Regions from separate parts of the Homo sapiens genome. Here region 2 is linked to region 1. The links come from fine-mapping of genetic effects on gene expression. A gene starts in region 1. The other region holds a variant in brackets. All regions are shown on one strand. Distances are from middle to middle.

What was found.
Region 2: its variant is fine-mapped to the expression of SH3RF1 in spinal cord (GTEx, PIP above 0.99). The same link has a PIP of 0.9 or more in putamen.

Annotation. Positions count from the first base shown.
Region 1 is chr4:169,268,633-169,274,010 of GRCh38, forward strand. SH3RF1 (SH3 domain containing ring finger 1) reads right to left here and starts at 2,324. Exons shown (of 12, transcript NM_020870.4): 1 at 2,227-2,324; 2 at 188-675. The coding sequence starts at 580. RefSeq lists silencers at 1,545-1,764, 2,005-2,764, 2,805-2,954.
Region 2 is chr4:169,342,963-169,348,340 of GRCh38, forward strand. No RefSeq gene overlaps it. Among named protein-coding and RNA genes, the nearest start is that of SH3RF1, 75 kb to the left of the region's middle. The variant T/C (reference allele first, on the strand shown) is at 2,628.

The DNA.
Region 1 (5,378 bases):
TTTATTATTTATATCCAATCTCATTCCAAGATGGGGGAAAAAAATATTCAGAGGTATAATCTATCTGTTCCAGTATGTATGGTTTCCTAAGCAATGAGTTGACTTCGAAAACACCAAGCTAAAGAATAAAGAAAAAATGTGGACATTACCACCTTTATTCACCAAACTACCTCTGTAGGCTACTTACCCTCACTGGGGGGCTCCAGGATTGCACCCGAGGCTGCTGTCCGCCCTGGGAGCTCTGCAGATCTTTTGAGCTACAATTAGCCACAGTGCTGCTCTGAGACCTTAATGCATTTGTGCAGTTGGTCCCACTTCCCCCACCAGGACCAGGTTTCCAAGGCCTCTGTTTGATGCCATCCAGAAGTCTGACCAGCAAGATGTTACTGGGAAGCTCCTCGACACCCGAGCCAACAAGAGTCCTGCACTCGGGACATCTGAGTTCATTTCGAGAACCTACGATCCCCAGCAAACATCGCTTGCAAAACGTATGCTGGCAAGGCAAGACCTTCGCAGAAGCATCAAGGCGCTCTAGACACACCGGACACTCCAAAAGATCCAACAAGGCTGATTCATCCATCTTTATCTACTTTACTGAGAAAAAATCTTCAGAAATGTTCATAGTTGTGTGCATCCCTTAAAATGACTCATGTAACATCCATTTCAGACTTTGCTCTAGAGTCATGGGGAAAAGGGGGAAAAGAGAACATGAGTGTTGTTATCTAGGGAAAAAGTTCAAAGGAGCCAAGAATCAAAAAGTACCCAAAAGTACACTATTCCCTGTCTGAATAGTGTAGCTTTGCTTTGGAATGTGGGTTCCTAAACTCCAAAGTCAACAACTGAAAACAAAACAGGCTTTCTAAACAACGCAAAATTAACCCCTAAAGATATCTAGGGATTCACTGGGCAAACACAAGGCACAGAGTATTACATAATTCCCGCAGAAGGATTTATGAAGTGCAATAAGGAACATAATTTCTTAAGCTCTGAAAGTGGTATCAGCTGCCTTAATAAAGTCTTCAACTCATAGGAGAAGCTGACAGAGGCCATTGAAAGTTTCCTCTACCTGAAATTTACTTTTATATCCAACTAAATTCCCTTTTTTAAGCCACTTTAGCGTTTAAGAAACCATGCCTCATGTAATCGCTCGTGGTAAATGATCCCAATATTAAATACATATGTTTCTTCGCTGTTATTAAAAATAGAACTGTTTAATTTTGCCCAACCAAAAAGAGCTGAAGGTTGACAATTCTAAAAGACACAGATTTGCTTGAAAGCAGCTAAAACAGAAAAGCGCCCTTCAGGGCAGTAGTTGATAAACTCTGAAACACATTTCTGAACGGCCTGTCCTAATCCCATTCAGAAAAGCTGGCAAAATTATCACCAAAAGAATTCGACAATGGAAGGTTGGACTGGAAACTGTGGGCATATGAAAATGAGGCCATTCAGGAAAAAGCAAGCCACTTACTGCGCCGCTCTCCCCCCACCGCCAAAATAAATGTAAAAGTGAATGCCCAGGAGAACGGGAGTAAAAAGATTTGGCTGGGAGCATTAACAGCTGTTCTTGACAAAGCCGGAGCGGGGGAGCCCCAGGGCTGCACCCCCGCTCCCACGGCGCCAAGCACAGGTACTCCCAAGCCCGCAGGGAGGCGCGGCGGCCGCTCGCCGCAGACACACCCCGGGGCCAGGTGTCGGCGGCACCCGGCAGGAGCCGGTCGCGGCCTGGGGCTGCGGCCCGGCCGGTCCCGGCGTGGGGATCTCACCCTACAGCCTCCCTCATCTCCGCCTCCCTTTAGCTCAGGCCGGGGACACAAATCCCTCTACACGACTGCGGGAAGTTTTCAAGGACTTAAAAATAAATGCGCAGGCTTAAGTTGCGAAACTCAGCCCCACAGAGTGCCACGGGGAAGCAGCTTTCTAGCCCAGCCAAGATAAGGCGACAGTCCCCAGAGAGACCGCGCCATCCGGGAAGCAGGGGGTGCTGGGCTGCGCCCGGGGAGACCGCGGCACGGAGCCCTGGCAGCTTCCTGCCCGGAGAAGGCAGAGGCCGCGGGCTGCTCCGCTTCCGCAGGTCCTGATTCCCGGCCCACGGGGACCCGAGGGCGAGGGGAGAGAGAGACCGACCCAGGGCGGGGATGGGGGAATGTCGAGACCACCGCCTTCTCCGCGGCTAGGGGTCCGCCGACGCTGGGTCCCCGTCGACCCCGCGCCGGCCGCGCGCCCTACCTCGCGCCTCGGCTCCTCCTCTTTGTTCGCGGCCCCGCAGCGGCTGCGGCGGCTGATGCAGATGCGGCCCCACCGCGCTCGCCGCTCGCAGTGTCTCTGACGCCGCGGCGGCACCGGGAGACTCCTCTCTGCTGCCCCCCTCACGCGCGCACACACACCACGCCGCCGCCGCCGCCTCCCACTTTCCCAGCCAAGGAGGGCGGAGGAAGAGGAGGAGGAGGCCGGGACGCAGCCGGCGCCCGGGGCGCAAGGGGGCGGCCCCGCGCCACAGCGCCTTCCCCGGGAGCGGGCGCGGCACCTCTCGGAGCCACCCGCCGCCGCGCCGGCCTCCCGCGCTGAGGTGACCTGCGCCCAGTACCCCGCCGGAGCCCGGGGGCGGGATTGGGGCGGCGGCCTGAGGGGGCGCTGCAAGAGCCTAGAGGATGGGGAGCGGGGCCCCCAGGGGACTACGAGGGGAAGGCTCGGGGACGGACGCCTTCTCCCTGAGGAGAACGCGCCTGAAAAATGGAGCCACCGGACGGGAAGGCGGCGGGAGTGGAGGCTGGGGGAAGCAGGAAGAAGCCCCGGGACAGGGTCCCGCCGCCTCCTCCTCCCCCCGGCGGGGCTGGGAGCCCTGGACGGACCCTTCCTCCCCAGGCTGGGCGAGTCGCGGCGCGGGAGGGGCTGGGTCCGCGGAGGCGGCGGGAGCAGCCCTGGCGGGAACCGATCCCGCTGCGCTTTGCGTCTGGTTGCCCACCCCGGACACTTACTTGGTAGAGTCGGAGCGAAGTGTTGCCCCTTAGGGCCGAGAGCGGCGTGGTGAATCGATGGGGACAGTGCCGCGGCCACCTGTCCGCACCCAGCCATCAGTCACCCCAGGACCCAAACCGGAGCAAGCCTGGAGGACCGCTGACCCCAAAGCCCAAGACTAGGAAAACGGTAGTACGGACTTCCAACCCAGGCTCGGGGGCTCTGTTATCCCTGCCCTAAGTGGGGAGAATTGAGTCTGACCTCAGGTGGGCTGGCACCGCAAAGCACGCTGAGAGGCGCCTCTTTTATCTGAGCCTGGGTGGCTGCCATCATCGCAGTAATCTTTGTTTTGGTTGCCCCAAGCACACACCTGTAAACCGAAGTGGAGTTTTGAAAAACATCTTGTCCATAGGTTTTGAGGTTTTTCAGTCTCGATTTAGTGGAGAAGCAAGTTAAAATTTTGTCACTGATCTAAAGTTGACATTACTATATTTGCATTTACCATCAATTTACAAAAAGTTATCCCAAATACCCCTCCTCAAAGGTGGGCAGAAACTAGGTGGTTATAAGAAGAAAGGGTTACAACAGATGATGCAAGAAATCTCTGCCCAGCCACCAACTAGGTTTATGATTTGACGAGGAGTCTCAGTTTATCCTCTAGTCTCCAGCTAGGGCCACAGCTAAACCATTCAAGACATAAGGATCACATAAGCCTGAAAAAATTATGACAGCTAACAATGATCACTCACTGTAAATCAGGCACTGTGCTGAACATTTTTCATGCATCAGTTCAATTCTCTCAGCAACCCTCTATGTCATCTTTTCTCAGCCTTGTTCTAAATAGATTCATATGCTGAGAGTCATAATGTATGAAAACCAAAAATAATAGCCCACTTCCCCTTCCATTAGAAGTGAGCAAATACATGGGCATTTGAGCTGAGAAAGACGACGGAAGGAATGAATGGAATGGAGAATTTCTAGTCCAGTTTGCAAACTGAAAGTTACTACTTAGTTCTGCATGTGGAACTGGGCAGATAGATGAAGATGAGGCTGACCAGAAGATTACAGTCAATAAACAGATAGGGATTATTTGCAGTTATTAAAACTGAAGCTCAAATAGGTTAACTTTCCCCTGGTCACACAGTAAGTAATGTTGAACCAAGACTCAGTCCCAGCTCTCTGGATTCCAAGTCCAGTTCTCTTTGCACCATTCCAAGGCCCTGTCTTTTGCACAGGACCGTCATATCCCCACCCTAGGCAAAGCAAAGCAGTGTGTCTCTTCCCAAGGGAAAGAAGAAACTGTTAATCATGTAATTACTCGAAAGCAAGGGACAGTTTTTATTGTGTTCTTATTTTGGTTTCCTATGTATTTTTAGAGAGCAGCACACAAGGTCATAGATAGAATGGTGCAGCTCTTGAAACTCCTGGCAAAAGAAAATCAATAGTCACACCCATTTTCTTTTCTTTTCTTTTTTTTTTTTTTTTTGAGACGGAGTTTCACTCTTATTGCCCAGGCTGGCACCCACCACACCCAGCTAATTTTGTATTTTTAGTAGAGACGGGGTTTCTCTATGTTGGTCAGGCTGGTCTCGAACTCCTGTGACCTCAGGTGATCTGCCCGCCTCAGCTTCCCAAAGTGCTGGGATTACAGGCGTGAGCCACGGCGCCTGGCCACACCCGTTTTCAAAGAACTGAAGACAGTGTGTCCCAAGACTGCAGTGGTCGAAGAATCTGGCATACATCTCATGAATATTATCTGGGATGTGGCTGCAGTTCTTTGAATGCCCCTGGTGCATGTTCTATAGTTTTTAGAACACAACACTTTTATTAGCTTTAGTTACTCCAGCTGTAAAGTGAAGTTTTAGGCAAGTTACTTTAACCTCCTGAGCCATTTTCTGTCAAATGGTTGAAAAAAAAAATATCTTTCTCAGAGTGTTGTGGGATGACTAGATGAGACAACATGCTGGTTCTTTGTAATCTGTATATCTCTATTAAAGTCAGATAGCATCATTATCATAATCTGCCAAGAATCACCCAGGCAGTTATTCTGGGCAAAGTCCTTTCTTCCCAGGGTCTTAAAAAAGTTTGGGATAGGCCAGGCACGGTCACTCACACCTGTAATCCCAGCACTTTGGGAGGCCGAGGCAGGTGGATCACCTGAGGTCAGGAGTTCAAGACCAGCCTGGCCAACATGGTGAAAACCTGTCTCTAGTAAGAATACAAAAAAAAAAAAAAAAAAAAAAAAATTAGCCAAGCATGGTGGCAGTCACCTGGAATCACAACTACTTGGGAGGCTGAGGCAGGAGAATTGCTTGAACCTGGGAAGTGGAGGTTGCAGTGAGCCGAGATTGCGCCACTGCACTCCAGTCTGGGTGACAAAGCAAGACTCTGTCTCAAATAAATAAATAAGTTTGGTATAATTC
Region 2 (5,378 bases), 74 kb after region 1:
TAGACAGTTACAATACAAGGATGTAAAACATTAATAATAATTATGCATTCAGCAGTGGAGTCCACAACAGCACACATAAATTGGCTCAAAGGGCTCTGGCACAAGGCCACTGTAGCTTTCCTTCTCCACTGCAAATCTTGCCCAAATTCCATTGGTTAAGTTGGGAATTCTCTCTTTCCACAGGACCAGAGAGGACAGTGACTTGGGACCTGTATCTAATAGGTATCTAATAGATCCATAAAATTGGAAGTCTCTCCTTTCCCCTCAAATCTCCAGCACACTTGGACAGATGAGTATGACCTTTGAGGCCTGATGTGGACCAGGGAGACCTTAGCTTCACCTCTAATTGTTTTTCTCATTAAAGTGGTTAAGCTGAAGTAGAGGAGGAGGAAAGCAATGAGTCATGAAGGAGAGAGTGGCTCTGCCCATTAAAAAAAGCTTTGCATTTACTTTTGTAGAGCATGGCTCATTACTCCAGCCCAATGAACTTGCATTGCCTTTGGCATTCACAGGGTTCCACATTGGATGGCAATGTCCTTGTGGCTGATATCATTTATTTCAAAAGGCAGAAGAACCTTCTGCCCACCCACAACAAATCTTGGTACTAGTAGTTACAATGGGGTGGACCTGAGGCTGCTCTCAGATTGGCAAGGAAGCCCTCCATCTGGAGGGTAGTTAGCAACAACCAAGGTAGTTGGGGAGTTGTCTTTGAATTTACTTCCTGGTGTTCAGCCTGCAACCAGCTTCCCGATTTCTCCTCATAAACAGGCAATGAAGTGGAAGACCATTGATTGTCCTGTTGACCACAAAATGGAGTCAACATGCCTCTGCCAACTCCCATGGGCTCCATTAGGTCCCATTATCTCACTTACAAGACCCTTGCTTTCCTGTTCCAGCAGCCACGTCTCCGTCAGCCTCCCATCCTCATCTCCAGAATTGTCAAGAACTGTGACGGGTCTGAGATTTTAGCGTACTCACAAGTTAACAAGTTAGCCTGGTACAGTTTCATAGATGCTAAGGGACCATTTATTACAGCACTAGAAGTAGCCTTAGTATCAGCATTTTTTCACAGGTTCCCTGGTCCCCAATTCCTACAGGGTGACACAAAGAGGTCCAGATGACATCTTGGGTTGTGTTCTAGGAGAGGAACCCTGAGCTTAGGGAACCTACATTTTAGGTGGACAACAAGCATACCCGCCCTTTGCTCTAAACAGAGACATTCTATCTCCTAAGGCGGTTCACTAAGCAAACCTCCGTGAAGAGAGAGTCCAGATCAAAGGGTGGTCAATGTCTGCCTCACAAGATGTGCAGACACACTGGAGACCCACAGAGAATTGCCTCCCAAAAATGCTTATTTTCATTTTATTCTTTCAGGTGTTCACAGTTATTTTGAAATATATCTCTGTGGCCTAAAATATTAAAGACAATGCAACAAAATTTGTACTATCAAAATCATTGGGAGAGAATATTAAATCTTCACCTGCAGAATGACTCTAAGATGGGTAATGATGATGTACCTAAGAAATAGCTGAGCAATATCTTTTATGGGCTTTTAAAAAAGGAAACCTTTTATTTTGAGGTAACTGTTCATTCACATGTAATTGTTAGAAATAAAACAGGAGATCCCATATACCCTTTAACCAGTTTTCCCCAATGGTAACATCTTGCAAAACTATAGTACAATGTCACAACCAAGATATTGACATGGATAAAGCCAAGATATAGAACATTCCATCACCACCAGGATCCTGGATGTTGCCTTTTCATAGCAGCAATATCTTAACCCATCTTCCTGGTTGTAAGGTAAATCAGTGCCTTAGCTAATTAGACTGCCACAGATCAAAGAGATAGGATTGTTTACACCAATACCAGAAAAACATTTTACAAATTATTTTTGTAAATATATGTAGAATATATTTCACATATTTTTGTAAATATAAGTAAAATATATTTCACATATTATTTTTGTAAATATAAGTAATATGTGTTTTATATATTAGAACATACAGTAACAAAGTAGATTAAAAAAAAACCTCCACCACTATTTACCAATTTGGTGTATTTTCTTTCAATCTTTTTTTATTTGCTGAGAGAGAGAGAAATGGGAGGGGTGAGAACTAGTATTTATTACCTACATATTTATGTATCTATCAGATATATTTTTGTTACATTCTGGAAATCAATAACATCAGTGAAAAGGAGAGAGAATTCTTACCCCCTGTTCCTTTAACCTTTACCGAAGAAAGGCAATGGGTGGGGCAGCACGTTTTATGGGCAGTTTGTCAGATCTCCAAGACTCTAAGGAATTACAGTGACCCCACACAGCAGGCACAGGGACTGTCCAGCCACAGGTGGATGGCCAGGGATATCCGCAGGGGCTGAAAGAGAAGCACTCCCACCAGCTTCTGGGTTTGGTCAGCAACTGGTGAGAGACTGGACAGCTGAAGAATGTGCCCCCAGTGGAACATTTTCAATAACCATTAGGCTTCCAATAAAAAGAAGTTAGAAGCAACAGTGTGAAAGATGTGACTGTTTCCTCAGAGGTCAAAGCATGAGTCACTGTGAATTAGGCAGTCAAGGGATGGCCCTTTTTTGTGCACTCACCCCCCTGTCATCAACCAGAGTCA[T/C]TGTTCTTCTGAATAACCCCCCCGTTTCAATGCCAGGGGGTTCACATCTGGTGGTGACAGGAGAGTTTTGCCAACAGGATTCCAAATGTCAGCAGGCTGACTGGTCAATGCTTACTCAGGCAAGCCTTCCCAGTGAAGCCATAATTACCTCCCGCTCTCAGAATAGGATTAACAAATGCAGTTATTTGTGTATGATCCTTTTACATACAACCTCATGCATTTTACTCATGCCAGTTAATATTTCCCATTAGAAAAATCCTCTTATATGAATGCCATGATAAATAAATTATTGGCATTTTAAAAAAACCTTGTTAACCAGAAATGGCCGCAAGGGTGAAAGTGTTTATACCTTCATACAATAATGCATTTCTCTTTTTATTTTAAGACTGTTTCCTTTCATTCAGTTTATGAGTAAGGCTGGGAATCAATTAAGTTTTAAGTGCAAAGACAAGGGATATGATTCCTAAAAATAAAAGAAGATAATTTAGGTGTACTTTAGAGGTAATTATAGCAGGATTTTGTTCAAAAGTTTCCCAATATAACTATGTGACTTGTGAAAACCTATCTCAACACTAGTTTCATCACCTATAAACTGGAGGTAATTCACGCCAACCTCACAGAGATGTTTTGATTCAGTAATGAGTCTTGTCTTTTGTGGCAGTTCTAGAAGCTCCAAGGACAGGTGCTGCCAACTGTCCCAATTTAGCCTGTGGCAGTCCTGCAAGTGAAAATCTCAAGTTCACCCACTGGTCCTGGTCCTTATCAGGAAAAGGGGGCTAAACTGATGTTTCAAACTAAATATGATTAACCAGCTGGCGATTATGAGCAAGGCAAACACTCTCCAAGCCTCCCTTAATCTATAAAATGAATGTGGAGAGGGAAGTAGTAGCTAGATGATATCAGAGACACCTGACAGCATATTAGACTCATTTAGGGATATTTAAACCGCTAGTGTCCTGACCACACCTGACACCAATTAAATTGAAATCTGTGGGGTTTAATCAGCATCAGTGGTTTTTAAACTCCCCAGGTGATTACACTAAACAGCCAAGATTGAGAACCATACGACTGGATATGTAAGTCACCGTTCCACTCCAAAATTCAATGATTCTAAATAAAATATTTGAAGCATTCTAAAAAATAAGACATTATTAATGTTATTGTGGTCACTGGGCCATACATTTCCAATGCAGACACCACAGTATTTGACTTTAAAAGAGAAAGTTGAAATAAAGTTTAAAAAAAGGCTGAATGCAGTGGCTCATACCTGTAATCCTAGCACTTTGGGAGGCCGAGACGGGCGTATCACTTGAGCTCAGGAGTGTGAGACCAGCCCGGGCAACATGGGGGAAACCGTCTCTACCAAAAATACAAAAAAGGTAGCCAGGCACAGTGGCAAGTACCTGTGGTCCCAGCTACTCGGGAGGCTGAGGCGAGTGGATTGCTTGGGCCCGGTAGGCGGAGGATACAGCAAGCCGCTGCACTCGAGCCTGAACGAGAGTAAGCCTGTCTCAAACAAAAAAAAAAAAAAAAAGACCACAGTATTCTCCATAGAGTGAAGTTGTCAGACATGGAGATAGCGGGACTGTGACAGGATAAGATTCTTTATAGAGGGATTATGCCTCGTAGTCCTCAAACCTGCTTCAACTGTTATAATCTCTGACCAAGATTACAATAGGGCAAGATCTGTGAGTAATGATGGTTGCTGATGCAAGCAATGTGGCTTTGGGAAACTAATTTCATTGTATTAATCTTATTAATCTCATCAGTATAGGAGGCGTCAGACCACATTGTGTTATCTCAGTGGTGCACTCCAGCTTTAACCTGTAGAGAAAAGAATAAACCTCAGTAAACCTCGTGTCTTGTTTGCTGGCTCCAGTTCTCCTTCGGCCTCTTGAACGCGGTGCCATCCCTATCCAACTCGATAGAGGTCTGGCAGGACAATCATCTACAAGAATAATGAGTTCATAAATCCCAATAAAACATAACATTCTATCAAGAGCAAAATGCAGTTCAGAATTATGTTTCTGTTGATAAACTATAACTATATTTGAGTTATCACTAAAATTTTAACCAGGAAATGAAAAGTTTTAAAGTGTGTTTTTATGTATGTACATTTTAATAGAACACAAAGATTCTATATGGATCAAAATTTCTCCAGCTTGATTGATAGTTTTTCTGTAGAATATATAAAATGAATAACACTTCTTTTCTTTTTAATTGAATGAATATAAGTTTATATATTTTAATTAAGTTGAAACTTCTTTCTCCTTTTTCTGCTTTATTTTACATAGAGTGTGCTATTCATAGTGAAACTTAAATAGATTGTAGACTATTGGTCAAGGTTGTACCCAAACTAGAGGGGTGTATTAGTTCGTTCTTGTACTGCTATAAAGAAATACCTGAGACTGGGTAATTGTTCCATAAGCTGTATAGGAAGCATGGCGACATCTGCTTCTGAGGAGCCCTTGGGGAGGTTTTACTCATGGCAGAAGGCAAACCCAGAGCAGGTGTCTTATGTAGCAGGAGCAGGACCAAGAGAGAGAAGGGGGAGGTGCTACACACTTTTAAACACCCAGATCTCACAAGAACTCACTATCATGAGAACAGCATCAAGGGGATAGTGCTAAACCATTCATGAGAACTCTCCCCCATGATCCCACCACCTCCCACCAGGGCCCACCTCCAACACTGGGGAATTACAACTGAAGATGAGATTTGGGTGGGGACATAGATCCAAATGGTATCAAG